Homo sapiens: one gene and its partners. The protein of the gene in region 2 purifies or fractionates together with the protein of the main gene of each other region. This does not show direct contact. Each region holds a gene or a part of one and is shown on either strand. Other genes may lie near its edges. The genes, in order: PPP2R2D, SAXO5, LONP1 and HAPLN3.

Region 1 (7,818 bases), on a different chromosome or scaffold from region 2:
CCAATCCCATGGCACTGGGCTTTGGGAGGCTTCTGGCACTGATGGTGATGATTTGGCTCCACACAGGACAGACAGACACGCACATGCTGCAGTCTCCAGCCACACCTGCCAGTCGTGTGGCCTCCAAAATCAGACTGAGTCTGTCCACGAGGGCATCATAAACTGGTTCATAGGAGCTCCATTTTTCTTTCAAAAAAGGCACGTTAAATCCACTTACGAAGAAAGTGTGTTCATGGAATCCGGGTCATCAGCCCAGAGAGCAGCAAACCTCCACCTGAACCACGGGCCCAGAATCCTCATCAATGAAAACTGTGCTCAGCATTAACCTTCAGAAGCTGATGACACTGTTCTACTTTAAGCAGGAAAGAGAAGTTTTCTCCGCACCTGTTGAGGGCACGTCTTCCTCCGCGCCTGTTGAGGGCACTTCTCTAAAGTGAATGGATCCTGCTTTTTGCGGACATAGGTGCGTGGAATTGCCAGCGCCTCTCAGAACATCAAGACTGCACTGGGGAGAACCCACAGAAACGGACAGGACTGCTGGCCAGGTGGCTTCCCCCGCAGGCGCCCCAGAGCTAGGTGACGACACCTCCAGGGAACGTGCGCCGCAGACCTCAAGGCAGTGGCAGTTCCACGGGAGCAGCAGTGCCACGTGGAACCTCTACACACGGGACCCGCCTGGGCTGCACCTTCTGCTCTGCCCTGGGGGTGGAGGAGGTGGGCTATTTAGTGGGAAATACATTCTAGAGGAAGATGGAAAAGGGTGTCCAAATACGCAGTGAAAATCCAGTTAAACATTTAAAATTTATTGAACTTTTTGGTCAAAATAGTTGAACAAATATATACAATCCCATTTTACTAGAACTGTCTTAAGGACCAGGGTTGACTAATGCTTAAATAACTGTTCCACACCTCAGACTTTGTAAATTGTGTCACAATCAATATACAGTATATAAATTATTTTTTAGTTAAAATAAAGGTACCTTTAGATTCTCAATTTCTAACTTAATGTGAACTCAAGTGGCACTGTGTTAGCATTGATTCAGGGTAATGACGGACATCCTGTTCTTGCCCATGTGGATTAGTAATCAGCACACACCTTCACCTCCACAGGGGGATGGGGGATCAACACACACCTTCATCTCCACAGGGGGACCGGGGATCAGCACACGCCTTCATCTCCACAGGGGGATGGGGGATCAGCACACACCTTCATCTCCACAGTGGGATGGCGGATCAGCACACGCCTTCATCTCCACAGGGGGATGGGGGATGAGCACACGCCTTCATCTCCACAGGGGGATGGCGGATCAGCACACGCCTTCATCTCCACAGGGGGACGGCGGATCAGCACACGCCTTCATCTCCACAGGGGGACGGGGGATCAGCACACGCCTTCATCTCCACAGGAGGACGGGGGATCAGCACACACCTTCATCTCCACAGGGGGACCGGGGATCAGCACACACCTTCATCTCCACAGGGGGATGGGGGATCAGCACACACCTTCATCTCCACAGTGGGATGGCGGATCAGCACACGCCTTCATCTCCACAGGGGGATGGGGGATGAGCACACGCCTTCATCTCCACAGGGGGATGGGGGATCAGCACACGCCTTCATCTCCACAGTGGGATGGCGGATCAGCACACGCCTTCATCTCCACAGGGGGATGGGGGATCAGCACACACCTTTATCTCCACAGGGGGATGGGGGATCAGCACACGCCTTCATCTCCACAGTGGGATGGCGGATCAGCACACGCCTTCATCTCCACAGGGGGATGGGGGATCAGCACACGCCTCCATCTCCACAGGGGGACGGGGGATCAGCACACACCTCCATCTCCACAGGGGGACGGGGGACCAGCACACACCTCCATCTCCACAGGGGCACGAGGAAGCAGCACACACCTTCATCTCCACAGGAGGACGGGGGATCAGCACACATCTTCATCTCCACAGGGGGATGGGGGATCAGCACACACCTCCATCTCCACAGGGGGACAAGAGATCAGCACACACCTTCATCCCCACAGGGGGACAGGGGATCAGCATACCCCTTCATCTCCACAGGGGGATGGGGGATCAGCACACACCTTCATCTCCACAGGGGGACGGGGGATCAGCATACCCCTTCATCTCCACAGGGGGATGGGGGATCAGCACACACCTTCATCCCCACAGGGGGATGGGGGATCAGCACACACCTCCATCTCCACAGGGGCATGAGGAATCAGCACACACCTTCATCTCCACAGGAAGACGGGGGATCAGCACACCCCTTCATCTCCACAGGGGGATGGGGGATCAGCACACACCTTCATCTCCACAGGGGGACGGGGGATCAGCAGTACACACCTTCATCTAGATAGGGGAACAGGGGATCAGTACACACCTCTATCTCCACAGGGGCACGAGGGATCAGCACACACCTCCATCTCCACAGGGCATGGGGGATCAGCACACCCCTTCATCTCCACAGGGGGACGGGGATCAGCACACACCTTCATCTCCACAGGGGGACGGGGGATCAACACACCCCTTCATCTCCACATGGGGATGGGGGATCAGCACACACCTTCATCTCCACAGGGGGACGGGGGATCAGCACACGCCTCCATGTCCACAGGGGCACGGGGGATCAGCACACCCCTTCATCTTCACAGGGAGATGGGGGATCAGCACACACCTTCATCTCCACAGGGGGACGGGGATCAGCACACACCATCTCCACAGGGGGACAGGGGATCAACACACCCCTTCATCTCCACATGGGGATGGGGGATCAGCACACACCTTCATCTCCACAGGGGGATGGGGATCAGCACACGCCTCCATCTCCACAGGGGCGCGGGGGATTGGCACACCCCTTCATCTCCACAGGGAGATGGGGGATCAGCACACACCTTCATCTCCACAGGGGGACGGGGGATCAGCACACCCCTTCATCTCCACAGTGGGACAGGGGATCAGCATATCCCTTCATCTCCACAGGGGGATGGGGATCAGCACACACCTTCATCTCCACAGGGAGATGGGGGATCAGCACGCACCTTCATCTCCACAGGGGCACGGGGGATCAGCACACACCTTCATCTCCACAGGGGGACGGGGGATCAGCACACACCTTCATCCAGACAGGGGCATGAGGAATCAGCACACACCTTCATCTAGACAGGGGGATGGGATGGGGGATCAGCACACACCTCCATCTCCACAGGGGCACGAGGGAGCAGCACACACCTCCATCTCCACAGGGCACAGGGGATCAGCACACACCTCCTTCTCCACAGGGGCACAGGCAATCAGCACATACCTTCATCTAGACAGGGTGACGGGCGATCAGCACACACCTCCATCTCCACAGCAGCAGGAGGAATCAACACACACCTTCATCTCCACAGGCGGACGGGGGATCAGCACACACCTCCATCTCCACAGGGGCACGGGAGCCCGACTCCCCACTCCCCTCGGGGACACGTAGTGGGCGTGTGTTAAATCCCACGGAAGCAAGCTCTGGTCACTCAGCATTGGTACAGCTCTGTATTATTTGTCTTGGAAAATCTTGATTTCTGGTATCAAAGATCCTACTTTGAAAATAAACCAACGTACTGGTGGCATCGTGTAATTAAAATTGCTTAATTTTGCTGGCTTGAAATGCAGGATGAAATTTAGCATGCATGTAATTTTAGCAATGTTTAAAAAGTATACTTTCCCCAAAGTGCTTTTTCAAAAGCCTTAGAAAGCAAGCACGTATTTCTTCAACTGTAGTGAATTTGAAGCTACTTTAAACCAGGCTTACTGGATGGCAGCAATTTTGGTTCTTCCTTGCAATTTTCTTTCTCAGAGGTGGCCTCGGTTCTGGCTTTTCCCAGACCTTACCTGGTGTATCTGATGGGCTACTTCTACAGAAACACAGCGGGCAGCAGCTTGGGGACAGAAATGCTGCACACATACCCCCACGCTGCCAAAGAAGGACACACATTTCTCAAACAGTTAGTTCCAAAGAAGAACCCTGCATAACTTCATTCTATGCAATAAAATTAAATAAAAAGACAATACTTCTGTTTGGATTTAAAAACACTTTATAGTGTGTTGTTTTTATTGAGCGCTCACACCCGAAGGGGTGGCGGCGGATGCTGTGGGTGAGTGGGGCCGCCTGAGCCTGCTCGGGCCACATCCACACATCCACAGAGTCCACCTGGACTCGGAGGAAGGCCGAGAGGACACGGACGGTGGCCACACCACGCTGCAGTGAAGGCCCAAGTGTGATGGCAGAGAAAGAGGGAAAGTTGGAGAAAGAGCGGTATCTGACAATAACTTTTCTCTTGGATGTTAATTTTTTGGTCTATAAATTGGAAAGGAAGGCTCGGACTGAAATAAATACATTTATTCTGAGTAATGACCTTTTGGGAGCAGTGTCCGTCAACTCTGCTTCGAGAGCGTCTCCACGTGAGCAGCAGCGCCTGTCTCGCGCCTCGCCGAGGCGGAACCACACCGGGCCTCCAGCGGAGGCGGCTTTCTCCTGTGTCTGTGAAGGGAAGTAGCAGGTGCGTCACTGTTCTTAATGGAGCGGACAATGATGCCTTTTCTCTGACAGAAAAATGTCCGGCTTAACTATGCAAGACAAGACTTGGTCCTCACGTTCGCGTCTCTAGTTGATTTTGTCCTGGAATATGTACAAGTTATTGGTGGCAGCCACGGCAATGACATTGTCCACGGGGTGCCAGGCTGTGTGCAGGATCTTCTTGTTGAAGTCCAGACTGTCCACACTGATCTCGTCTTTCCTCCGCTTACCCCCCGTACACACCTTCCGGGGTTTGAGGCTGGCGCGCGGTTTGCTGCTCTCTCTCGAGGCCTCCAGGGTCACATCCCTCCGCGTGTCTCTATCAAACATCCTGAAGAAGTTGTTATAGGACCCGGTCATGATGGCGCTGTTCAAAACAAGAGCAGACAGCAGCACTCCTCAGTGGGGGGAGCGGCAGCAAGGACTCAGACCCCACCCCTGGGGTGCACAGCGCACGCCACCCTCCCCCACAACCCAGTTACTTTCAGAAATCAGGAATGATCAATCACAATGGGCAGAAGAGAAATGCAGTGAAAATGTGTACCGAGCTTTATCTATAATCATGTCAGTAAGAATCCATGTCACAGGAGAAACAAAATAATGGAGTCACACTTTTAACATTAGTGTATTTTTTGAAACAACCCCACCTATTTATCTCACTCATGAATAACAGCACAGTTTATTTTTAAGCCTTATGTTCTGCAATTTGTCAATGATCCATAATGACCTGAACATAATCCTTATCATGTTCAACAGTTACTAGTCATATCTGTCAATGTTTCTTTGGAGTTAAACTGCTTTTCTATTAATTTCAAAAAGTTTCTTTCAAATGAGGCAACGGATAGAAATAGTAAAAATCCACTGGGCAAAGTGTGGCAGAATTTTAGAACAACTGCATTTCACACACATTCCAGACAATACAATACCGTCCATGCTTTTGTTTCTTCAAGATCAACTGTAATGGCTTTCAAATGTCTCTGCTGTCGAAAAATTCTACTACCGCACACATCCTCATGATATAACTTCATAATACTGGTAAAAACCTCTGCAATCTTACATTTTCTACAAAAATGACAGAAAAATAGCTGAATGATGCAAACGCTGCCATGATTTGACCCATGGCTTCATGAGTCCAGTTTCTGATGAAAGATGTGTTCAAACAATGCCCTTCTGGTTTCTCCAGCCGTCCTTGAAGCTCGCCTCCTCTTCCTATTTTGACACTAACCCGCGCCCTCACGTCCTGCCCCCATGGTCATGCGCGGTGAGAGGCCTTTCACGCTGGCGCGTCTTCAAGGTGCCATGAGAAAGAAGCGGGCCGCTTCCCTTCCATGGCCCAGCACTGACCCTGGCTGCTGGCAAATACCTAGTGTCTGACTGACCTTGTCTAAAACTTCAAAGCAGGGGAAAAAAAAAAAAAAAAGACGAACTCAGAGAAGAGAAACTGCATTCAGCGATCCATGTTTATTTCCCATCTCCTGCTTCCATCCAGGAGCCCACAGCGCCACAGAGGCGGGAGACACAAGGTGTGCCCAGCGCCCTCCAGCAATGCCAAGCTGTGCACGTGGTCTTGGAACAGGGGTATGCAGCCAAGTTGGCACGTGAGGGCCATTGACTGGGGGTTCCCCAAATTAGTTTCCACATAAAACACAATGTTTACGAAAGGGTAAGTAATAAGAATGTGTGAATCTGAAGCTTACATTTATGTTATTAAAACTCAACAGTAACCATTATTCAGAACACAGACGACAGATGATGTATGGCCGACACTGACTGGAATTGCTGGTGCATGGTAATAACGAAAAGCACATCAGCTTTCATACAGATTTATGATCACTTTTAAATTCTCGACAGATAGTGCCAGCCCCAGAGTGGGTGTTTCCACACTGCAAACAAGGGCGCTGCCCAGCAGCCTGGTGCTGGCCCAGGAAGGGAACAGCACAGACAGAGACACAGGCGTAAGCACATAACTGGTTCTGTGGGGCGACCTAGAACACAAGAAGGCGCTGCCACACGGAGAATCAGGATTGGGCTGAGGCAGCACTGAAACGCCTCACTCCCCTTCATCGCATCCCTCAACAGAAGTTTCCAGGTAGGAAGACTGGCGTGTTTTTGAGAGTGAATGGACTAAGCAAATGTTACTGGGAACGCTTTTAGATGTTCTTGGGGATATGTAATCTAAGGGTATTTTGCAATATTTGAAATATATCAAGAGGAATAAAAAATACAGTGACTATCCATGTACCCGCAAGTCACTGCTAAGACAGTGAACCCCCCGCACACTCGCAAGTCACTAAGACAGTGAACCCCCGCACACCAGCAAGTCACTAAGACAGTGACCCCCCCACACACCCGCAAGTCACTGCTAAGACAGTGAACCCCCCGCACACTTGGAAGTCACTAAGACAGTGAACCCCTGCACACCCGCAAGTCACTAAGACAATGAACCCCCGCATACCCGCAAGTCACTGCTAAGACAGTGACCCCCACACACACAACCACAAGTCACTGCTAAGACAGTGAAACCCCCTGCACACCTGCAAGTCACTAAGTGAACCCCCCGCACACCCACAAGTCACTAAGACAGTGAACCCCCGCACACCTGCAAGTCACTGCTAAGACAGGGACCCCCCGCAAGTCACTGCTAAGACAGTGAACCCCCCACACACCTGCAAGTCACTGCTAAGTGAACCCCCCGCACAACTGGAAGTCACTAAGACAGTGAACCCCCGCACACCTGCAAGTCACTAAGACAGTGAACCCCCGCATACCTGCAAGTCACTGCTAAGACAGGGACCCCCCCGCAAGTCACTGCTAAGACAGTGAACCCCCCCACACACAACCGCAAGTCACTGCTAAGACAGTGAAACCCCCCGCACACCCGCAAGTCACTAAGACAGTGAACCCCCGCAAACCTGCAAGTCACTGCTAAGACAGGGAACCCCCGCAAGTCACTGCTAAGACAGTGAACCTCCCACACACACCCGCAAGTCACTGCTAAGACAGTGAAACCCCCTGCACACCCGCAAGTCACTAAGACAGTGAACCCCCTGCACACCCGCAAGTCACTAAGACAGTGAACCCCCGCACACTCGCAAGTCACTGATAAGACAGGGACCCCCCCCGCAAGTCACTGCTAAGACAGTGAACCCCCCACACACACCCGCAAGTCACTGATAAGACAGGGACCCCCCCCGCAAGTCACTGCTAAGACAGTGAACCCCACACACACACCCGCAAGTCACTGCTAAGTGA
Region 2 (7,818 bases):
GGCGGAGCCAGTGTCTGACCAAGGAGGATGGTTAAGACTGGGTAAGAGAGGATAGGGAAAGGGGCGAGGCTATGGCCAGAAGGGTGGAGTTATGCAGGGGCGGGGCTTGGCCACGAAGGGGCGGGATTGTCCAGGGGCGGAGTTGGGGTTCTGGTCAATTTGGGGTGGGATTTAGCCCTTCAGAAGGTGAAGCCTGGGGTAAGGTGGGGCCGCCTAGGGACAGAGCCAGAGCATCAAAGGCTGGGGAGGTTGAACTCTGGGGAGAGGTGGGCAAAAAGGGCCCCAGGCTGGGCTGAATGAGGAGCTGGATAAGAAGATGGAGAGAAACCAGGGGTGTCCCTGGAAGGACTCCAGGGCTGGGGTGATCCTGGGTGGCTCTGAATTAACCCTCGTCTTGGGTATAACAGTGGTGGTGGTGCAAAGATGCCCCTGAGCTGACCTTGACATGACCCTGGGGGGTGAGCTAGAGATGACCTCTATTTTTTTTTTTCCTTTTTTTGAGGCAGAGTCTTGCTCTGTTGCCCAGCCCAGAGTGCAATGGTGCGATCTTGGCTCACTGAAACCTCTGCCTCCCTGGTTCAAGCAATTCTGTCTCAGCCTCCCTAGTAGCTGGGATTACAGGCATGCGCCACCATGCCTGACTAATTTTTGTATTTTTAGTAGAGACGGGGTTTCACCATGTTGGCCAGGCTGGTCTCGAACTCCTGACTTCAGGTGATCCGCCTGCTTCGGCCTCCCAAAGCGCTGGGATTACAAGCGTGAACCACTGCACCCGGCCAAGCTAGGGATGATCTTCAGGCTGAAGGGATATTAAGATGCCCCCGAGCCTGGGTGATCACTAACTCTGAGACAGGGTGACAGCATAGTCGTCCTGAGATAACTCTACACCAATGTGGGGGTTGCCTAATGATGGGTGGCTCCCCTCCGCCTCCCTTACCCGCTGTAGCATCTCTTCAGTCACCGGGGCCGGAGGTGTTCTGTGTGGCTTCAGCATCTTCTGGTTCATGGTTAAAAAATCGAATTCTGGAGATTCAGGTTGGGGAGGCTGAGTGAGGGCTGTGGGCCGAGGCGGGGCTGAGGGTGTGGTGAAGTTCAAGGGAAGGGTTCAAGAGCCAAGCCCAGGCCAGCGCTGAAGTTGACCAGGGGAGAAAAATGGATTAGGAGAGGGGGGAGGGAGGAGCCAAAGAAGGAGGGAGAAGCCAGAGGAAGGGGGAGGAGCTGGGAAAGAGGGAGGAGCTGGGAAAGAGGTAGGCGCTGGGGAAGAGGGAGGAGGTGGGGGAGGAGGAAGGAGCCAGGGGAGGAGAGAGGAGCTGGGGAAGAGGGAGGAACTGGGAAAGAGGGAGGAGCTGGGACAAAGGAAGGAGCCAGAGAAAGGGGGAGGAGCTTGGGAAGAGGGAGGAGCTGGAGGAGGACGGAGGAGCTAGGGGAGGAACCCAGAGCTAGGGCATAGGGCTAAGAAGGTCAGGGGCGGGGCCGGGCCAGATGAGTCTGTGGGCAGGGCCAGGCAGGGCAGGCTAGCGGGTCAGGGGCGGAGCCAGAGTCTGACAATGGAAGAGGAGTTAAGACTGGATAAGAGAGGATGGAGAAGGGGCAGGGCCGTGTCCAGAAGGATGGAGTTATGAAGGGGAGAGGCATGGCCATGAAGGGGCGGGATTATCCAGGAGCAGAGTTGGGGTTCTGGTCAATTGGGGGTGGGATTTAGCCTTTCAGGGGATGAAGCCGGGGGAGGGGAGGGCTGGTTAGGGGCGGGGCCAGAGCAGTGGCAAGGGCGAGGCTTCCAGGGCTGGGCTTCCCGGGACGGGGCTCCGTGGGGGCGGGGCTCCATGGGGAGGGGCTCCATGGGGGCGGGGCTTTCGGGGGTGGGGCTTCCCGGGGCGGGGCTCCATGGGGCGGGGCTTCCCGGGAGCGCTCACCGCCCGTGCCCCGCGGCAGGTAGCTTTGCTGCAAGTGGAGGTTGGGCGCTTTCTGCACCTGTCTCCACTCTGAAGGGCAGTAGTCCGAGCCCATGGTGGTCTTGAAGAAGCGTTTGAGTAGCTTTGGCTCCCCTAGGGTCACATGACTCTGCAATTTCTCATGAGGCACGTGGCGGCTGGGTGGCTGGGTCGGGGGTGGCGGCTGTAGGACCACATGGCATTTGAAAGCTCCGGCGTCCGAGAGGTCCCCGGGCCCGGGGGGGAGGGAGGAGGTGGGCTCTGTGTGACCTTGGACAGCTCCCTCACCCCTTCTGGGCCCCACCTGGTAGCACTGGGAGTTGGTACTCTTATCTCATTTTACAGAAGGAGCCACGGAGGAGGATCGGAGTGGTTAAGTGACTCGCCCTAGATCACTCAAGTACATCCAGGAGATTCCTGCATACATATCAAGCTCACTCCCACTTTGGGACTTCTGCACCTGCTATTTGCTCTGTCTGGGAAGCCCTTTTCCCTGCCGCCTTTTCGCTCTTCCTGCTCACCTGGCCGTAGAAGTACTGCATGAAGGTGTCCAGACTGCCGGGGCCGGGGCACCAATTTCCTTTCAGGATGTGCGACTCCGGAGTCTGATCGTGGTGAAGAACAAAAGGCTCTGCCAGAAGCGGAACAGGTGCAGAGCTGCCCTGGGAGGCTGCGGTGGGAGGCGGGACGGGGCGGGCCTCAGGCTCTCACCTGGCTCCCTGGCATAGAAGTGCTCGGCCTTGGTGGTCCTGTCGCGGAAGAGGCCGTCACCAGGACGGATATTTACACAGTGGATGTGGGCTGTGGCCTGGGCCTTGTCATACCTGTACGTAGTGTATTATTCCATCAAGAATAAGGTAAAGTGGGCTGGGCATGGTGGCCCACCCCTGTAATCTCAGCACTTTGGGAGGCTGAGGTGGGTGGATCACCTGAGGTCAGGCTTTTGAGAACAGATTGGCAAAAATGGTGAAACCCCATCTCTACTAAAAATACAAAATTAGCCGGGCATGGTGGCACATGCCTGTAATTCCAGCTACTCGGTAGGCTGAGGCAGGAGAATTGCTTGAACCCGGGAGGCGGAGGTTGCAGTGAGCTGAGATTGTGCCACTGCACTCAAGCCTGGGCAACAGAGCGAGACTACGTCTCAAAAAAAAAAAAAGAAAAAAAAAAAGAAGAAGAAGAAGCTAAAGTGGATCCATCTGGGGCCTTGCAACCCCCAGAAAGAGGGAGGGGAGCAGGGTTTCCTAATGACCAAGCTGTGGGGCTCTGATAATGAGAGATCTGGCACAATAGTGCACCTTGGCTACCAGTGACAGAGACCTCAGAGGCAGAGTATGGGCCCTAAAGCCCTAAGGGGCAAATACCACATGCTACTGAAAGCCAGTTGTCCCATCTGGGTGGGAAGGCAGTGCCCCCTCGTCCCCCACTTTTTTTTTTTTTTTGAGATGGAGTCTTGCTCTGTCGAACAGGCTGGAGTGCAGTGGTGCAATCTTGGCTCACTGCAGCCTCCGCCTCCCGGGTTCAGGCGATTCTCCTGCCTCAGCCTCCGGAGTAACTGGGATTACAGGCGCCCACCACCACACCCGGCTAATTGTTGTATTTTTAGTAGAGACAGGGTTTCACCATATTGGCCAGGCTGGTCTCGAGCTCCTGACCTCATGATCTGTCTGCCTCAGCCTCCCAAAGTGCTGGGATTACAGGCATGAGCCACCGTGCCCGCAGTGGCCCCTTTATACCTATCTTCAGGCAGATCCTGGGGCCTGTAGGCCTGTTTCTGCTCCGAACACGTTGATCCATAGCTGATCTTGCAGTCTCCCAGCTCCACTCCGGAGGAGGCCTGTGGGCAGACAGGGATAGGAAGGCCCAAACCACCCAGCCCCCAATTCTGCCCCCGCCTGCAGCCCCAACACAGCCTCAATTTACCCTCTTACACCTCAAGGCAGGTGGGCCTGGCAGGGCCTGGAACTGTCTTTGGTAGGAAGTCCCATCTTGTCTCGTGTAGTCCCACTTGAGGGTGTTGGGGCCCCCTTAGGATAGGCAAGGGGGATGGGGGGAGAGAGAGAGAGATTGAGATTCCCTGCCATCTCAAGCCCTCTGGAAGGAATTCTATTTCTTGCCTGGGAAGGGGAGCTGGGCCATTCTGAACAGTGTAGACTGAGAGCTGTCTGGCAAACACCAAAAGATAAAAATAAAAATAAAATAAATTATACTAAAAGCCAGGTGCAATGGCCCATGCCTGTAATCCCAGCTATTCAGGTGGCTGAAGTGCAAAGATGGGCTTGAGCCCATCTTGAGCTGGAGACCAGCTTGGGCAACATAGTAAGACCCTCATCTCTAAAAAATAATGATAAATTTAAAAATACAGCCAGGTGTGGTGGCTCATGCCTGTAATCCCAGCACTTTGAGAGGCCAAGGCAGGTGGATCACCTGAGGTCAGGAGTTCAAGACCAGCCTGATCAATACGGTGAAACCCCATCCCTACCAAAAATATAAAAATTAGCCGGGTGTGTTGGCATGTGCCTGTAGTCCCAGCTACTCAGGAGACTGAGACAGGAGAATAATTTGAACTTGGGAGGTGGAGGTTGCAGTGAGCCGAGATCGTGCCACTGCACTCCAGCCTGGGCCACAGAGTGAGATTCTGTCTCAAAAACACACACACACAATAAAACAAAAAAACCCCAATAATATCTACCAAGGACTATATTGAGCCACACATAGGTTAAGTGCATTGCATCTTTTTCCAGGACTGAGTATCTCTCTCTCCGTCTCTCTTTTATTTTGGAGATGGAGTCTCGCTCTGTGGCCCATGCTGGAGTGCAGTGGCACAATCTTGACTCACTGCAACCTGCTCCTCCCAGGTTCAAGCGATTCTCCTGCCTCAGCCTCCCAAGTAGCTAGCTGGGATTACAGGAACGCACCACCAGGTCAGGCTGAATTTTGTATTTTTAGTAGAGATGTGGTTTCACCACATTGGCCAGGCTGGTCTCCAACTCCTGGCCGCAAGTGATCCGCCTGCCTCAGCCTCCCAAAGTGCTGGGATCACAGGCATGAGCCATTGCACCCGGCCGCAACTTCTTCTTGGACCTGGTATCATTTCTCTTGTTACAGCCTCCTTGAGGCTCAGAGAGGTTAAGCAACTTGCCAGAAATCACAGAAACTAGGAATCACAACTAAATGTCAAATCAGGGTTTGACAATCCCTGAGCCCATCTTAGGGGCCTCTGACCAGTAATGTTCACCCAAAGGGTCCCTGGAGTCACAGAATTGGAAAATTACACGAATGCTGGCTACTCTTTGTTAAGTGCTCTCTGCACCAGACACACCATACACATTCAGCTTTACTAGCTCCTGTGAATTGGGCCCTGTGATTGCACCCATTTTGTAGACGGGGAAACTGAGGCTTGGAGAGGTTAACTCCCTCAGACTCACACAGCTACTAAGGTGGTAAGGCTGGGGGGTGTGGGGAGGAGGGTGTACAGCTGGGGAACTTAGCTGATTTGTCTGACCCCAAACTGGCATTCATGACTTCTGCCAACCATGCACCACTCTGGACAGATTCAGAGGATATGTCCACCCTCCTGATGCTGAAACTGATGCTCAAGGTGGTTCCAGGGTTTCTGAGGCTTGGTGTAATTGACATTTGGGGCTGGCTGGGAGGATACTTGGCAGCATCTCTGGCCTCTACCCGCTGTCTGCTGGTAGCACCTCTGCCCATCTTTTTAAATTTTTATTTTGTAAGGGCTGGGCTCAGTGGCTCATGCCTATAATCCCAGCACTTTGGGAGGTCGAGGCAGATGGATTGCTTGAGCCCAGGAGTTCAAGACCTGCCAGGGCAACATAGTAAGACTGCATCTCTACAAATAAGTACAAAAAATTAGCTGGGCCTGGTGACATGCGTGTCTGCAGTCCCAGCTGCCTGGGAGGCTGAGGTGGGAGGATCACTTGAGCTGGGCAGATTTAGTCTGTGTGAGCCGAGATCATGCCACTGCACTCCAGCCTGGGTGACAGAGACACTTTCTCAAAAAAATATATACACATATATATATAATAAAAAAATAATAAAATTTTTATTTTGTAGAGATGGGTCTCGCTATGTTGCCCAGGCTGGTCTCCAATTCTGGCCTCAAGACATCCTCCTGCCTAGGCCTCCCAAAGCACTGGGATTACAGGCGTGAGCCACCGCGGGTGGCCTCGCCACCCCCCAAGTCTTCCTCCCTCCCTCCCTCCCTTCCTCTCTGTCTTGTTTTCCTTCCTTCCTTCTTCCTTCCTTCCTCTCTCTCTCTCTCTCTTTCTTCTTTCTCTTCTTCCTTTCTTTCTTTCCTTTTTTTGAGACGGAGCCTTGCTCTGTCTCCCAGGTTGGAATGCGGTGGCACAATCTCAGCTCACCACAACCTCTGCCCCCTGGGTTCAAGCGATTCTCCTGCCTCAGCCTCTCAAGTAGCTGGGATTACAGGCACCCTTCACCGCGCCCTACTAATTTTTGTATTTTAGTAGAGGCGGGGTTCCTCCATATTGGCCAGGCTGGTCTCGAACTCTTGACCTCAAGCGATCCCCCCGCCTCCAACTCCCAAAGTGCTGAGGTTACAGGCTTGAGCCACCGCGCCCGGCCACCCCCCAAGTCCTGACCACCAAAAGCGTTTCCAGACATTGCCAAATGTTCCCTGGGGGAAGGGGAATGAAGAGCCCTTGCCCCTGTTTGAGAACCACAATGTGAAGCAAATCGCCCACTCAGCCCGGGCGCGCGCTCACCGAGGTGGCAACTGGGCGCGCGAGGCTGCGGGCGCGCGTCGTGGGGTGGAAAGAGCGCCTGGTGCGTGGTGGGCGGGATGCGCAACTTGTCGCGGTCGCCAGGAGGCAGGGAGTCGCGGTCGAAGATGAGGCGCGCGCCGCGGATCCGCTCTCGGGTGCGCGCCGGCAGCTCGGGCCAGCCGTAGGCGGCGTGCGCGTTGGAGAGGCCGATCCCGGCGTGCGCGTCCTCGTGCAGGTGCAGGTTGCCGGCCTGCATGGCGAGCGTGCGTTCCCGCGCCTGCGCTTGCAGCAGCTCCCACGGCGGCGTGGATGGCGGCGGGAACGCGCGGTGCGCCTCCGACACGCGCTCTTCCCGGTCCCAGCGCGGGTCCATTGGGAAAAGCAGCGCGGGCGGCGGCTGCAGGCTCGGCGGCTCCCGGGTGGCAGCCGGGTAGGCAAAGTCCCGGTGCGACGTGGTGCGCATGGTGCCCTCGTGCAGCCGCAGGTCAGGCCCCAGCGAGAAGTGCGAGGCCTTGAGGAAGTCCAGCCGGGACATCGGGCACGGGCGCGAGCACGGCAGGAGGGCGCCTGTGGCCATCGCGGGACACCAGCCACCTGCGAGAGGGTGGAGATGAGGGACTGAGCAAGTGCCCATTGGGGCACTTGCCTTTGACTCCTGCTTTTGACTCCTTTCTGCTGCCTTTGACTCCTTTCTGTTCGCCAAGCACTGAGCTGGAGGCTGGGGACATCACGGGAAACTGGTACAGCTTCTGTGCCTTCCCCCAGCGAGAGCAGAGACAGAAATAATCATGGCTGGGCGCGGGGGCTCACGCCTGTAATCTCAGCACTTTGGGAGGCCGAGGCCGGTGGATCACCTGAGGTCAGGAGTTCGAGACCAGCCTGGCCAACGTGGTGAAACCCTGTCTGTACTAAAAATAATTTTTAAAAAAAATTAGCCTGGAGTGGTGGTGGGCGCCCGTAGTCCCAGCTACTCGGGAGGCTGAGGCAGGAGAATCGCTTGAACCCGGGAGGCAGAGGTTGCAGTGAGCCGAGATTGTGCCATTGCACTCCAGCCTGGACGACAGAGCGAGACTCCGTCTCAAAACATAAAAAAAAATCTTTCATGTGGTGCCTACTGTAGGCCTGGCACACAGTAGGCA
Region 3 (7,818 bases), 1.8 Mb from region 2:
TTGCGGTGAGCCGAGATCACGCCACTGCACTCCAGCCTGGGCGACAGAGGCTCCATCTCAAAAAAAAAAAAAAAAAAAAAAAAAAAGAACAAGTTCGCTGCCCCTAAGGGGTCTTGCCAGTTCTAATCACATTTGTAAGTTTGGTCGCTGTCTTCCCCCTGTTGCAAGATTCTCACAGGGAATGCCCCAATGCTGAGCTGCCCAGGACAGTGTAGCCGCTGGTGGCTGTCTGAATTTTTTTTTTTTTTTTTTGAGACAGAGTTTTGCTCTTGTTGCCCAGGCTGGAATGCAATAGTGCAATCTCGGCTCACCGCAACCTCTGCCTCCCAGGTTCAAGCAATTCTCCCGCCTCAGTAATCCCGAGTAGCTGGGATTACAGGCATAAGCCACCACACCTGGCTAATTTTTTTTTGTATTTTTAGTAGACACGGGGTTTCTCCATGTTGGTCAGGCTGGTCTCAAACTCCTGACCTCAGGTGATCCGCCCACCTCGGCCTCCCAAAGTGCTGGGATTACAGGCGTGAGCCCACCGTGCCCGGCCTGAATTTTTTTATTTTAATTTTTAGATACAGGGTCTCACTCTGTTGCCCAGGCTGGAGTGCAGTGATGCGATCACAGCTCACTGCAGCCTCAATCTCCTGGGCTCAAGCGATCCTCCCACAGGTTAGACCACTGGTGTGTGCGACCATGCCCAGGGATTTTATTTTTTTTGTGGAGACAGGGGTCTCAATATTGCCCAGGCTGGTTTTGAACTCCAGGGCTCAAGTGATCCTCCTTCCTTGGCCTCCAAAAGTGTTGGGATGACAGGCATGAGACACTGTACCCAGCCAATAAAATGTTCCATTCTGTTCCTTGGCCACAGCAGCTCTACTTCAAGTGCTCAATACTCACAGGTGGCCGGGCACAGTGGCTCACGACTATAATCCCAGCATTTTGGGAGGCTGAGGTGGGCGGATCACCCGAGGTCAGGAGTTTGAGACTAGCCCGGCCAACATGGTAAAACCTCGTCTCTACTAAAAATACAAAAATTAGCCGTGTGTGGTGGCACGTGCCTGCAATCCCAGTTACTTGGGAGGCTGAGGCATGAGAATCACTTGAACCTGGGAGGTGGAAATTGCAGTGAGCTGAGATCGTTCCATTGCACTCCAGCCTGGGTTGACAGAGCCAGACTCTGTCTCAAAAAAAGAAAGAAAAAAAAAAACCTCGCAGGGGTAGTGGGGCAGGATAGAAGTGCTGACCTCAAGAACCCAGGTGGGCCTGTGGACAGGACTTTCCACCCCTGCCAGCGCCCACAGCAGACATCACCAGTTGCTCACAGCACTTCCCCCTAGGCCCTGCAGCAGCCTGGGGAAGAGGCTGATGACACCAGGCACACAGGTAAGGAGCTGACACGCTTCAGGCCTTTGGTTAGCTTCGCTGACTGTCCCTACAGCGGGAGGGCAGGTGGCACCGCCAAGAGCCTGCCCACCTCGGAAGCTGACTCCTTGTGCCACCAGGCAGGCAGGACGGCCTAGGTTGGGGGATCAGGGTGGCCAACAGGCTGTTTCCTGTCCTGCAACCACTGGTACCAACCTCCCAGGCTTGGTGGGAAGAAGCCAGGGCTGGAAGGTGTCTTGGTAACCGCTGGAGGCTTTGGCACAGGGGACACGGGCTGGGGCTGGACCTGGGTTCCAACCCTGTCTCCTTCCTGAGCAGCTACAGGCTCCAGCGAATTTCCTGTGCCTCTCCCATCCCAGAGTCTTCCGAAGACCTCTGGGAGGAAAAGCACCCTCTATGTTCCATTAGAATTGAGTTCCAGACAGGCCAGACCCTTCCTAAGGGGCTCAGGGTGGGAGATGACTCTTCGGAGAGGCCGCAGGAACGGCTCAAGGGAGCCCGTGGGGGAGGCAGCTGTGGCCGCCCTGCGTGACGCACGGACTCACTTTCACCTCCTCCGTGACCTGGAAGTCCTCGTGGACAACGTTCTCTACCTCCACCATGAGCACCTCAGCCGGGAGCTCAGGGGTGGGCTCCATCGCCAGCTCCGCCGGGTGCCTGGCGCTCAGCTCGTCCTCCGCCTCCTTCTTGCCCCGCTTTGACTTCCTGCGGGGCTTGTGCTTGTTCTCCGCCTCCGGCTCCTCGGGCTCCACCTCCAGCTGTCTGCTGATATGGACTCTGACACGGGAGCAAGGCAGGTGTGAATCAGCCGCTGAGGCTGGGAGCTGGACCCGGCTGAGGCCTCCCTGGTGGCACAGGTGGTCCAAGGGTCCCGCTGAGCCCAGACCTCTGGAGCCACAGGGTGGCTACAGGGTCCTCAAGCTGGAGACGTGAGCCGCTTTCTCGGGGCCTCCCAACCAGTGTCCCCTCCACCCCTTAGACTCCAGCCAGATTCAGGCATTCCCTGCATCCCACGCCAATGCATCACTGTCCCCATCCTAAGTATCGTGGATAAGCTGCAGTGACAAGCCCCAGGGCCTCCTGTCGAAAACGGTGTCAGCCTGGCCGGGCACAGGCTGGTCTCCAAGACTCTGTGCCCTGGACTCAGCTCATAGCAGCTCCTTCCTGTTGTTCAGGTCTCGATTTCAAGGACACCATCGCAAAGACTGTCCCCAAGCACTTCACAAAAGCTACCCACCTCCACCTCTCACGCTGTCTGCGTCTCCCCTCAGAGCACCTGGCACCACCTGAACTCAGGGTCTCGCTCTGTTGCCCAGGCTGGAGTGCAGTGGTGTGATCATAGCTCACTGCAGCCTTTACCTCCTGGGCTCAAGCAATCCTCCTGCCTCAGCCTCCCAAGTAGCTGGGACTACAGGAACACGCCGTCACATCTAACTTTTTATTATTTTTTATAGAAACAGGGTCTTGCTGTGTTGCCCAGGCTGGTCTCAAACTCCTGGGCTTAAGCGATCCTCCCACCTCAGCCTCTTGCGTAGCTGTGACCACAGGCATGAGCCACCACATCCAGCTAATTTTTCTACATTTTTTGCAGAGATGGGATCTCGCTACGTTGCCCAGGCTGGACTCAAACTCCGGGCTCAAGCGATCCAATTGCCTTGACATCCCAAAGTGCTGGAATTCCAGGCAGGAGTCACCATGCCTGGCCCTGCAGCTCACCCCTTTCTGAGACAGGAGGGGTCCAGAGGTGACATGTCTCACTCTCACCCCCAGCTCTGGCCTCAGTGCTAGTGAGAAAGCCGCTGGGCTGACGGACAGGGCAGAGGCTGATGCTGGGGCATAAGGCATCCTGGCTGGTCTCCCGCGTGGTACTCTGCCCCCACCTCCCACTGTCCCCCGCCAGCCACCCACCTTCTGTGTCCCATGACGATCATGCGCAGCTTGTCCCCAAGGTCCTGCATCTCATGGATCTGGGCAAACGTCCCCGTGTGGTAGATTTCATCCAGGCTCTCGACCACATCCGACTCATTGCTGTGGGAGAAGAGCACAGAGGAATGTTGGAACATGGCTTTCATGCTAGGCAGGATGTCTCTGGCTGAGATGGAGGAGGGAGAGAAAAGAAACGCCCCTACCAAATGCTACTGAAAACCAAGAGCGGCCTCCTTGGCTCCCGCAGGAGCTCCAGAGCCTAGGGGAGCTTCTGCCAGGCCAGGGCTGCCCCAGTGGTCACAGGACCGGGTGGGTGGCTCCTCGCTAAGTCAGCCACAAAGACATGGTCCAGGTGGGACTTTGATGAGTCTCTTCTATGCTATCACAGAGCCTGCTTCGAATGCATGCATGGAACTCTTTTTTTCTTGAGATGGAGTTTCGCTCTTGTTGCCCAGGCTGGAGAGCAATGGTGTAATCTCAGCTCACTGCAACCTCCACTTACTAGGTTCAACCGATTCTCCTTCCTCAGCCTCCTGAGTAGCTGGGATTACAGGTACCTGCCACCACGCCTGGCTAATGTTTTGTATTTTTAGTAAAGACGAGGTTTCATCATGTCAGCCAGACTGCTTTGGAACTCCTGACCTCAGGTGATCCACATGCCTCAGCCTCCCAAAGTGCTGGGATTACAGGTGTGCGACCCCACGCCCGGCCCATGGAACTCATTTCTACATGGAGCCACATCTCCGAGCAGCTAGCTCGACTTTCAGGTAGCCTCATGGAGCATTTCATCACTAAGAGTCCCTGAAGTTAATTTCCCCCGTATCTTAACAATGCATGAAGTTTAGTACTACAAGCTGAGTTCTCAGCCCAGGCTGAAAAGGTAGCCTGCGTGGCTTCTGGCCTTTATTCTGGAGGTCTTCCCTGGTTTCCTCGGGGTCAGGGGTCAAAGGTGCAAAGTACAGAGTAGGACTTGTGGTGAGCTGGACTCTAGGGCACCGTCAACAAGGGAATGAAGGAAAAATCACACTTACCTGTCATCTCTCTTTAGAAAGACGCCGACATAAGGCTGGGCGAGACGAACTTTCCTTCTCAGCAGCTCAACCAACTTCTTATTTTTAACCTAGCATGACAATGACCCCAAAGTGAAATGCAGAGTAGATTTTTTTTTTGAGACAGAGTCTCATTCTGTTGCCCTGGCTGGAATGTAATGGCGTGATCTCAGCTCACTGCAACCTCCACCCCCACTGAGTTCAAGGGATTCTCCTGCCTCAGCCTCCTGAGTAGCTGGGATTACAGGCATGCACCACCACACCTGGCTAATTTTTTTATTTTTAGTAGAGATGGGGTTTCACCATATTGGCCAGGTTGGTCTCGAACTCCTGACCTCAGGTGATCCACCCACCTCAGCCTCCCAAAATGCCGGGATTATAGGCGTGAGCCACCAAACGCAGCACAGGGTAGCTTTTCTTTTTTTTTTTTTTTTCTGAGACGGAGTCTCGCTCTGTCACCCAGGCTGGAGTGCAGTGGCATGATCTCAGCTCACTGCAACCTCCGCCTCCCGGGATCAAGCAATTCTCTGCCTCAGCCTCCTGAGTAGCTGGGATTACAGGCGCCCGCCACCAGGTCCGGCTGATTGTTTTGTATTTTTAGTAGAGATGGGGTTTCACCATCTTGGCCAGGATGGTCTTTAACTCCTGACCTCGTGATCCACCCACCTCAGCCTCCCAAAGTGCTGGGATTATAGGCGTAAACTACCACGCCCGGCCTCCCAGGGTAGCTTTTGTAGCTGACATTTTTTGACAGCAGAGCCGCTCTAACGCTGTGTAGATTATTCTCTGGGGACATGCTGATCCGCATCCTGGATACTAATCAACATGGTTTGGGAACGCCTAAACAAAAAAAAAAAAAAAAAAAAAAAAGTGCTGGAGGCCAGGAGGCTGTGGTGGTGAATACAGTGAGCAGAACTGACCAGCTGGATTCTTCTTAGCGGTTTCCCCACTCCCAAAGGAAATTCAAAGTAGACGAATGGTCAGAACCCAGAAATTGATTTAACATCCAGCTTCAAAGGGGATGTCCAGGGCAAACTGTCTTGGTTTGAAAATCAAAACCATTCTGCTTTTATTAATGTCAGAATAAACATAAGTAATTTAAATGTGACCCACTCCAGAGATTGATAACTTCCTTTTTTTTTTTTTTTTAATAAAGTTTCAGGCTGGGCGCGGTGGCTCACGCCTGTAATCCCAGCACTTTGGGAGGCCGAGGCGGGCAGATCACAAGGTCAGGAGATCGAGACCATCCTGGCTAACACGGTGAAACCCCGTCTCTACTAAAAATACAAAAATTAGCCGGGCGTGGTGGCGGGCACCTGTAGTCCCAGCTACTCGGGAGGCTGAGGCAGGAGAATGGCGTGAACCCGGGAGGCGGAGCATGCAGTGAGCCAAGATCACGCCACTGCACTCCAGCCTGGGCGACAGAGTGAGACTCTGTCTCATAAAAAAAAAAAAAAAAAAAAAAAAAAAAAAAAAAAAGAAAGTTTCACTCTGCCACCCAGGCTGGAGTGCACTGGTGCAATCTCGGCTCACTGCAACCTCCACCTCCCAGGTTCAAGCGATTCTTCCAACTCATCCTACCACATAGCTGGGGTTACAAGCACACGCCACTGCACTCGCTAATTTTTGTATTATTAGTAGAGACGGAGTTTCGCCATGAGCCACCATGCCTGGTTCCTCCAATTTTCATTGACAGTTACTTCCTTATCACATCATATGCTGTTCATTAATGATCAAGACCCCCAGGATCACAGCACATTCTCAACGGCAGGTTCAGGGCTAATGATGTCTTCTAAGAAGCATTTGAAGGCGCAAGGAGCTCACCTGATTTCTTTCAAGCCTTTGTTAATTCACTGGACAGACCCTGATTAAAGGTAATGGCCTGGCTAGCCTGGTAATGGTAGCTCATGCCTGTAATCCCAGCACTTTGCGGGGCTGAGGTGGGAGGATCGCTTGAGCCCAGGAGTTTGAGACCAGCCTGGGTAACACAGTGAGACCCCATCTCTATTTTCTTTTTGAAGTTTTTAATTCTTTATTATATAATAAAGTTAAAATATACATATATATATATATATATATATATATATATATATATATATAGTAATGGCCCTCAAACTTTTGCAGGCACCAGGATGACCTGAAGGACTTTAAGCAGCTCACTGCTGGGCCCCACCCTTGGAGTTTTTGATTCAGTTCTAGGGTGGGTCCAAAAATCTGCATTTCAAACAAAAGAGCATCACATGATGCCGATGCTGCTGGTCCACAACCATCCTTTGAGAGCCAGTGTTTTGACTCACTCCCTAACACAGGCTCTTAACTTGTGGTCCAGAAATTCCTGACACTATAGATACATAATTTTTTTTTTTTCTGTTCCCAGAAAAAAAAAAGTCAGTAACATCTGACAGGAGGGTGTGTGACCCACTGTTATAAGTAAAATGTTTGTTTAGAGACAGAACGCTTGTACCTCTGTACTGTAAGGAAAAATTAGCATTTGGACAAAAAGTTTTCTTAGCAAGACAATTTTACTTTCTGAAGAAAGGGTGCTCCTCGCAGATGGAACAATGGCGAGAGCAGAGCACACCTGAACAAAGGAGGGAAGCAATTTTTTTTTAAGACAGAGTCTTGCTCTGTCGCCCAGGCTAGAGCGCAGTGGAGCGATCTCAGCTCACTGCAAGCTCCGCCTCCTGGGTTCACACCATTCTCCTGCCTCAGCCTCCCGAGTAGCTGGGACTACGGGCGCCCACCACCACTCCAGGCTAATTTTTTTGTATTTTTAGTAGAGACGGGGTTTCACCTTGTTAGCCAGTATGGTCTCGATCTCCTGACCTCGTGATCCGCCCACCTCAGCCTCCCAAAGTGCTGGGATTGCAGGCGTGAGCCACCGCGCCCAGCCCACGAAGTTAGTTTTTAAAAGAAACTAATACTTCTAACACTTATGATTTATTCTTTAATACCCACCAAAAATTAAGAGCCATTGTTCCTTACTCAAAAGTTGCTAATAGGAGAGAAGCTTCTAGAGCAAGTTGGCCAGACAAGTCAAGTACAAACTGAAGAGTAAATCAAGCTTTGCTAACAATTTCAGAAACATTTATTGGGTCCCAAAGAAGTTGCCTCCCAATTTCCCCTCTGCCAACAGCTGATAGCTGCATCCTTGGCATCTGCCTCCTGGCCTTGGCAGGATCCATTTTTATGATTTACAATGCATCATCAACCAGAAATACAATGAGAACCACCTGCCAGTCTCCCAAATACTATCTGCAGCCACTCATTTAACTCTCCTGGCTAGCTCCACGTGGGCCGTCTGAACTCTCTTAGAAGAATCATCTCTCTGCTCAGGCACCGGGAGCAAGGGGCATCTGTCGCTCTGCAGAACGGAGGGGACCAGGCCTGATGAACACCATCCTGGGCCCAGAAACCTGGGAGGGTAAAGAGAACTGCCAGGGGTGAAGTCAAGGATGGGAAAAAG
Region 4 (7,818 bases), on a different chromosome or scaffold from region 2:
CAGAGAGTTGATCCAGTTGTCCAGGTCAAACAGCTATTAAAAAGACAAAGCTGAGGGCTGGGTGCAGTGGCTCATGCCTATAATCCCAGCACTTTGGGAGACTGAGGTGAGTGGATCACTTGAGGTCAGGAGTTCAAGGCCAGCCTGGCCAACATACCGAAACCCTCTACTAAAGATACAAAAAATTGGCCAGGCGCGGTGACTCACACCTGTAATCCCAGCACTTAAGGAGGCCGAGGTGGATGGATCACGAGGTCAAGAGATCAAGACCATTCTGACCAACCTGGTGAAATCCTGTCTCTACTAAAAATACAAAAGTAGCCGGGCGTGGTGGCAGGTGCCTTTAATCCCAGCTTCTCAGGAGGCTGAGGCAGGAGAATTGCTTGAACCTGGGAGGCAGAGGTTGCAGTGAGCTGAGATCATACCACTGCACTCCAGCCTGAACGACAAAGTGAGACTCCGTCTCAAAAAAAAAAAAAAAAACACAAAAAACAAAAAATTAGCCGGGTGTGGTGGCGTGCACCTGTAATCCCAGCTACTCAGGAGGCTGAGGCATGAGAATTGCTTGAACCTGGGAGGAGGAGGTTGCAGTAAGCTGAGATCACACCACTGCACTCCAGCCTGGGTGACAGAGTGAGACTCTGCCTCAAAAACAACAACAACAAACTTGTTCCACTTGTTTGTGGAAGGAACGAACCAGATGGCTGGTCTCAGTAATAGCCAGCACCTGCCATGAAGAGCGCACAGCCTGGTTCAGAGACGACACATGAGCCTGCAAGTGCAGTGCTGGGTGTTTCTCACCTTTCCCTCTGCCTTTGAGTAGATGATTGTGCCTGCAGAGGCATTTTCCCTCTTTTGATTAGTCTCCTAGGTCAGCTGTAACAAATTAACACAAACTTGGTGGCTTGAAACAACAGAAATGTATTCTCTCACTGCTTTAGGCACCAGAAATCCAAAATTAGTTTCACTGTGCAGAAATCGAGGTGCGGATAGGACTGTACCTCCTGTGGCTCTTGGGGAGAATCTGTTCTTGCCTTGCCTCTTCCGGTTCTGGTGGCTGCTGGCATTCCTTGGCTGTAGCTGCCTCACTGCAGGCTCTGCCTCCTTGGTCACGTGGTCTTCTCCTCTTTTATATGCAAATCTCCCTCTGCCTCCCTCTAAACAGGTACTTGCGCATTTGCATTTAGGGCCCACCTGGGAAATTCAGGATACCCTCCCCATCTCGACATCCTTAGTTTAACCTCATCTGCAAAGTCCATTTTGCTACATAATTAGGATTTAGGGTATTTTGGGAGGCCATTATTTAGCCCACCACACCCTTTTCCTTCAGAATTTATTTTGTTATACAAGCCCTACTTTATTTATTTATTTATTTATTGAGACAGAGTCTCGCTCTGTCACCTGGGCTGGAGTGCAGTGGCGCGATCTCGGCTCACTGCAAGCTCTGCCTCCTGGGTTCACGCCATTCTCCTGCCTCAGCCTCCCGAGTAGCTGGGACTACAGGCATCCGACACCATGCCTGGCTAATTTTTTGTATTTTTAGTGGAGATGGGGTTTCACCGTGTTAGCCAGGATGGTCTCGATCTCCTGACCGCCTGATCCGCCCGCCTTGGCCTCCCAAAGTGCTGGGATTACAGGCGTGAGCCACCGTGCCCGGCCTACAAGCACTACTTTAATGAGATTTGCGGAATTTAAAAAACTTAAACTTCCTACTCATAGTTTCACTACACTACCAGGCCAACATTTCATTTTTGTCTTTCCCTTTTGTCCCTGAATATGTAAGCAAAGTCATATATAATCCCCCCACCCAGGGGAACCACTGTTAACTTTTTAGGTATCTCTTTCTAGCCTTTTCTTTTTTTTTTTTTTGAGACAGGGTCTCACTCTGTCACACCAGTGCAGTGGTGTGATCTCGGCTCACTGCAACTTCTGCCTCCTGGGCTCAAGAGATCCTTCCACTTTAGCCTCCTGAGTTAGCTGAGACTACAGGCGTGCACCACTGTGCCCAGCTAATTTTTGTATTTTTAGTAGAGATGGGGCTTCACCGTGTTGGCCACGCTAGTCTCGAACTCGTGGCCTCAAGTGATCTGCCCGCCTTGGCCTCCCAAAGTGCTAGGATTACAGGCGTGAGCCACTGCACCTAGCTGAGCCATTCTTTTATGATTTAGAAAACTTTCTCCAACAAAAACCAGCTCATGTCATACATGTGATTTTTGTATTCTCCCTTATCACCTCATAGAATAGAACTCGTTTTCTAAGTCAATGATTGAATGTACATCTACCAGATTATTTTACATGGCTGTATAGTATTTTATCATATGGATGTACATTTTCATTTTATTCAGGTTAAAGCTTCAAAGGTAGTTTACTTAAGAGAGTTGGGAAGAACCAAGGAAGTGGCCCCTAAATGATAGCCCTGCTTCATATTTATTGGACACTTTCTGTGTGCCAGGCATCCTGCCTTACCTGATTTGAACCTTACCACAGCCCTCTGTAGGGACTGTAATTAACCCATTCTACAAATGGGGAAGCTGAGTCTTGACTTCCCTGGATTACACAGCTGGGAAAAGGTGGAACCAAGGGCAAGCCCGAATTGCCTGACTCCAAACCTCTGTACCTACTGCCTCTGCAGAGCAGGACAGCTCTAATCTGAATGAGCCTGAAAGTCCCCTGGAGGCTGGACCCCATTCCCAGAGTCTCTGAGGCACTGGGACCCCACAATGTGCATTTCTGACAAATTCCTGGTGATGCTAATGCTGCTGGCCCGAGGGCCACACTTGGAGACTTCTGCATATGGCAATCTGCTACATTAGGTATAGCTCTTTTTTAGCACGATTCCTCTACAGGGAACCTCCCTGTCTGTCTCCTGCTTACCCATGAGGCTGTCCCCTTGCCTCCACCTTTTTAATTAATTAATTTGTTTTTATTTTGTTTTTGGCAACAGAGTCTTGCTCTCTCACCCAGTTTGGAATGCAGTGGTGCGATCATGACTCACTGCAGCCTTGACTTCTGGGCTGAAACAATACTCCCACCTCAGCCTCCCGAGTAGCTGGGACCACAAGCATCTACCACCATACTCAGCTAGTTTTAAAAATTTTTTTGTAGAGACAGGGTCTCACTTTATTGCCCAGGCTGGTCTCAAACTCCTGGGCTGAAGCGATCCTCCTGTCCTGGCCTCTCAAAGTGTTGGGATTATAAGCGTGAACCACCGTGCCTGGCCCCTGTCCCCACCTTGAGTAAATCAAGCATGTCTTGAAGTCTAGACCCAAGAGAATGAATCAGTGAGGTCCCAACAGGGGCTCCCAAGTTAAAGATGAGGCAGCCTTAGCCTATGAACTTGATTCTTTTGTTGCATGTTGAGTTCTGTGTGTATTTGTAACTCTGAGCCGTGAGCGTAGTCTCCTTTAGAAGTTCTGCCCTTAGCTCAGTAGGCTGCTCCGTATTTGGGAAGAGTTATGGTGGACAGCTGGACCAGAGAGTAAAGCCAGGGCTGTGCTGTCCTCTGGCCAGTGTGGTGGGGAAGGAAACTCCGACGGATCCCTATCAGGGCCACTTGTCCTGGCCATGTACCTCATGTGGGGTGGCTCTTGTTGCCTGCTCCATTGGTTAGATTTTATGCATAGCAAACCACCCAAAACTTAGTGACTTCTTTAGGATGACAGCCATTTGTTTAGCTCATGATTCTGTGGGTCAGCATTTTGGAGTGGGCTCCATTTCTTCAGGTCTTGCGGTTGGGTCTTGCAGATGTGCCTGCCCATGGTGGGCAGGTCAGCTGGGGGCTGGTTGCTGTAGGATGGCCTCAGCTGGGGCGCCCTGTCTCTGTTCTGTGTATTCTCTCATCCTCTAGCAGGCAAGCCTGGCCATGTGCTCATGGTGGCTGGCAAAGTCCTAAAAAAAGAGTGGAAGCAGCAAGGCCCCCTGGGACCTATGCTCAGAGCAGGCATGATGGATAACAGTCACTTCCAAGGCATTCAGTTGGTCAAGCAAGTGGCAAGGCCAGCACAGATTCAAGGGGGTGGGGGAATAACTGTCATCTCTTGATGGAAGGAGATGCAAAGTCACATTGCAGAGCATGTGGATACAGGGAGGGGTGGAGCATGGTGGCCATTTTTGCAATCTGAGCCTGTAGGAGCCGTGGATGAGGGTGTGCGGTGGCCCTTGCAGGGGTACAGATGTGCTTCAGCAGGTCTCATCTGCACCCTGTCTCTCCCCCAAGACCTCCTTAATGGAGTGAAGCTGGTGGTGGAGACACCCGAGGAGACCCTGTTCACCTACCAAGGGGCCAGTGTGATCCTGCCCTGCCGCTACCGCTACGAGCCGGCCCTGGTCTCCCCGCGGCGTGTGCGTGTCAAATGGTGGAAGCTGTCGGAGAACGGGGCCCCAGAGAAGGACGTGCTGGTGGCCATCGGGCTGAGGCACCGCTCCTTTGGGGACTACCAAGGCCGCGTGCACCTGCGGCAGGACAAAGAGCATGACGTCTCGCTGGAGATCCAGGATCTGCGGCTGGAGGACTATGGGCGTTACCGCTGTGAGGTCATTGACGGGCTGGAGGATGAAAGCGGTCTGGTGGAGCTGGAGCTGCGGGGTGAGATGCTAACGGGGACTGGGTGACACTGGGACCTGAGAGCAGAGGGGAGAGGACCAGAGAAAACATCCAGACCTCTGTGCTTTAGACATTTAAAAGTACTTAATTCTCAAAACAACCCACATGGAAGCTACTGTTGTGACCCCCATTTTACAGGTGAGAAAACTGAGGCACAGAGAGGTCAAGTAACTTACCTAAGGTCACACAGCTTGTAAACGACAGAGCTGGGGTCTGAACCCAAGCACCCAGCCTCTAGAATCTGTTCCCCTCTACCCGCTGTAATTCACATCTCATTCAGAGAGAGGAAAACCAGAGCTGGTCCCACAGCTTATTAGAGACAGAGCTGAGATTTAAGCAAGGTTAGCGGGTAACACAAGCGAATGAGGCAGCCCACTGTGAGACGATGGGAGTGGTGGGGACTGGGCACACTCCTGAGCCCTTGTCCTGTGCCCAGGGAGCTCCCACACTACTCAGGCCCAGCTGATGATGCCACGCCAGAATGCAGACCCCACTGCCAAATTTTCTGGCTTGACAAGATAAGCTTATATTTTTATGTGAGATCTCCTGATTTTTATGTAAAAACCTCCTTTTTAAAAACAAAACAAAACAAAAAACAAACAAAAAGCCCCCCCAAAACCAAAAACAAAAACCCAGTGCTGTCCAAACCAGCCACACCCTGCAAGCCGGATCTTGTATGTGGGGTCCCTGTTTGATCTTTAATTTGTATTTACCTTCTCTGTCTCTAGGATGGGGCTGTGTGTCCTCACATCTCTCCCACATGTTAGGGAGGCAGTTCGGGGATAGAGGAAGGTGACCTGACTTTAGCCCCAGCCCGTCCCAGCTATGACATGTGGGTAAATGCCTCATCCCCCTTAGAGCCCTGGGCCTCTCAGGTGTAAAATGGGGTATCACAATCTTTCCTCCTTTACCTCCCTCAGAGGCAATGAGGATAAGATGTATGTCCTTAAAATGCGTTCTCTGTCTTTGCCACCAGTGTCCACATGGCTTACATGGTGGCTCAGAGGGGCCGCATTCCTCATTCTTGAAGTTGGGGTGGCAGTGGAGTTGGGGAGAACCTGCAAGAGTCATTGGTCTGGGGTCTGCAGGGGCAGCCTAGAGAAACAGGGAGCCCTCACCCCATTCCCGGGGCTTCAAGGGCTAGGAATTTGGGGTGGAACCAGGCATGAAATAGTCCCCCTGCAAACACACGTAGAGGCTGCAAGCTGACTGTCAGGGCCCATGGGCTTCTCTGCCGCCCAACCTGGCTTTGCCCAGGTGCCTGGCTTCCGGCCCTGGTGAGATCGGAGGTTTGGGGCTCAGGCTGTTCCTGGGTCCTTGGCCACACGGAGGAGATTCCAAAGTGTCCTTCCCAGACCCCTAGGGTCACCTCCACTCCCTAAGGTTTCATTGACTTGGTAGAGACTACATCTCAGAAGTTTAAAAACTTTTTATTAGAGTAAAATTTCAAACACGAACATATCTTTTCAGGGCCTGTGGCCTCTATCAGACCCTGACCACAAGGAGAGAAACCGCCTGCCCCAGACCTCCCTGCCCTTGAGCCTCCTTTATGGAAGGCCCTTCCCCAACCCTCTCCCCACGGCCTCTAGGGCCTCTCCTTCTCCTGAAAATCATCTGCCACACGTGGAAAGTTCCTTGCATTTTCCTAGGAAATTTCCACATTCATAATAACGTAGACGATCGGGTCCCAGCTAACGAGTGGGGAGCTGGGAGTCAAACCTGGCCCCTAGAGCCCAAAGCCCGGGCCTGTCTGGAGAAGATGGCACAGCCTCACTGGGGGTCTGGCGACAGCCTTGCGGATTAGGTTGGGGACATTGTTGGGGACATTAATGGACTAATTAATTACCTTAACTCATGGATGTTTTCTGAGTACTGCTGTGAACCAGCTGAGTCCCAGGAGAGAGGCGGCAACGGACAGGAGGTCAGAGGTTTGCTGAGTTTTTCTGAGGGATGGTGTATGTGTGTGTGTTGCAGGCAGCACATGTCCCAGTGAAGGTGGGAGGAGAGCGGGGTGTCCAGCCAGCTGGGCCCCTGGCCACCCCCTAAGCTCCTCTTTCCTTCCCCTGCAGGTGTGGTCTTTCCTTACCAGTCCCCCAACGGGCGCTACCAGTTCAACTTCCACGAGGGCCAGCAGGTCTGTGCAGAGCAGGCTGCGGTGGTGGCCTCCTTTGAGCAGCTCTTCCGGGCCTGGGAGGAGGGCCTGGACTGGTGCAACGCGGGCTGGCTGCAGGATGCCACGGTGCAGTACCCCATCATGTTGCCCCGGCAGCCCTGCGGTGGCCCGGGCCTGGCACCTGGCGTGCGAAGCTACGGCCCCCGCCACCGCCGCCTGCACCGCTATGATGTATTCTGCTTCGCTACTGCCCTCAAGGGTGAGTGGAATAGCCAAGCGCGGGCCTGTGGGTTTGGTGGCCACCTGGGACCTGTGAGAGGGCAGCTTCTGGGGAGCTCTGGCCCCCTCTGCTGGCTCTGCTGGTACTGCCACCTGGAGGCCAAGAGCACCAGCCACCCTAGAAGCAGCATCTGGTTGAGTTTTGAGTGCTTTGCTGCTGCTGCGTTATGCAGGGCATAAATCATTGGTTTCTTCATTCATCAAATGTTTACTGAGTGCCTACCATATGCTGGGGCCTAGACTAGGCTCTCGGGAATCACAGACGAATAAAACACAGCCTGTCTTCACAAAGCAGCTCATTTCGTAGGAAGATGAACAAGTAAAAACAGAAACTGGTTCAGTGTCATATGCCAAGCCCTTGGAAAAGTGTCTGACACATAGTAGGTGTTCAGTAAATGACCGAATGGGCAAGAGACTCTGACTGGTCCAGCCTAGGTGGGGTGCCCACCCACCTAAATAGGGAAGGGTGGTGGGGGAGTGCAGACATGTCTGGAGGGACCTGGGTTCTATGGCAGGTGGGACAGAGCTCTCTGGGACAGGGTGAAGATTAGAAAGTGTTCTCTGCAGATGCCTGCAGTATGGTAGCTCCCTGGGCTCAGACGGGTCTTTGGGGCTGGCATCTCTGCAGACCCCGCTGTGCTCTCTGGCTGCCCCCTGCGCTGTACGGCACTCACGCCCCCTTTCCCCCAGGGCGGGTGTACTACCTGGAGCACCCTGAGAAGCTGACGCTGACAGAGGCAAGGGAGGCCTGCCAGGAAGATGATGCCACGATCGCCAAGGTGGGACAGCTCTTTGCCGCCTGGAAGTTCCATGGCCTGGACCG

The links.
Region 1: the proteins of SAXO5 (region 2) and PPP2R2D purify together in Homo sapiens (affinity purification with mass spectrometry; 2 studies listed by BioGRID and IntAct, with this or other methods). This does not show direct contact.
Region 3: the proteins of SAXO5 (region 2) and LONP1 purify together in Homo sapiens (affinity purification with mass spectrometry; 2 studies listed by BioGRID and IntAct, with this or other methods). This does not show direct contact.
Region 4: the proteins of SAXO5 (region 2) and HAPLN3 purify together in Homo sapiens (affinity purification with mass spectrometry; 2 studies listed by BioGRID and IntAct, with this or other methods). This does not show direct contact.

Annotation. Positions count from the first base shown.
Region 1 is NC_000010.11:131,952,799-131,960,616, reverse strand, and holds the end of PPP2R2D (serine/threonine-protein phosphatase 2A 55 kDa regulatory subunit B delta isoform), read right to left. Parts: intron 4,934-7,818; coding exon 4,654-4,933; 3' UTR 783-4,653; downstream 1-782. UniProt on the Homo sapiens protein: Substrate-recognition subunit of protein phosphatase 2A (PP2A) that plays a key role in cell cycle by controlling mitosis entry and exit. Involved in chromosome clustering during late mitosis by mediating dephosphorylation of MKI67.
Region 2 is NC_000019.10:7,500,261-7,508,078, reverse strand, and holds part of SAXO5 (stabilizer of axonemal microtubules 5), read right to left. Parts: intron 7,274-7,818; 5' UTR 7,257-7,273; coding exon 6,680-7,256; intron 3,959-6,679; coding exon 3,855-3,958; intron 3,769-3,854; coding exon 3,668-3,768; intron 2,756-3,667; coding exon 2,643-2,755; intron 2,563-2,642; coding exon 2,453-2,562; intron 2,116-2,452; coding exon 1,914-2,115; intron 1,024-1,913; coding exon 938-1,023; intron 1-937.
Region 3 is NC_000019.10:5,709,849-5,717,666, forward strand, and holds part of LONP1 (lon protease homolog, mitochondrial isoform 1 precursor), read right to left. Parts: intron 4,424-7,818; coding exon 4,335-4,423; intron 3,406-4,334; coding exon 3,286-3,405; intron 2,155-3,285; coding exon 1,923-2,154; intron 1-1,922. UniProt on the Homo sapiens protein: ATP-dependent serine protease that mediates the selective degradation of misfolded, unassembled or oxidatively damaged polypeptides as well as certain short-lived regulatory proteins in the mitochondrial matrix.
Region 4 is NC_000015.10:88,878,124-88,885,941, reverse strand, and holds part of HAPLN3 (hyaluronan and proteoglycan link protein 3 isoform 2 precursor), read left to right. Parts: intron 1-4,216; coding exon 4,217-4,585; intron 4,586-5,331; coding exon of another isoform or gene 5,332-5,399; exon of another isoform or gene 5,400-6,213; intron 6,214-6,473; coding exon of another isoform or gene 6,474-6,531; intron 6,532-6,672; coding exon 6,673-6,975; intron 6,976-7,685; coding exon 7,686-7,818. UniProt on the Homo sapiens protein: May function in hyaluronic acid binding.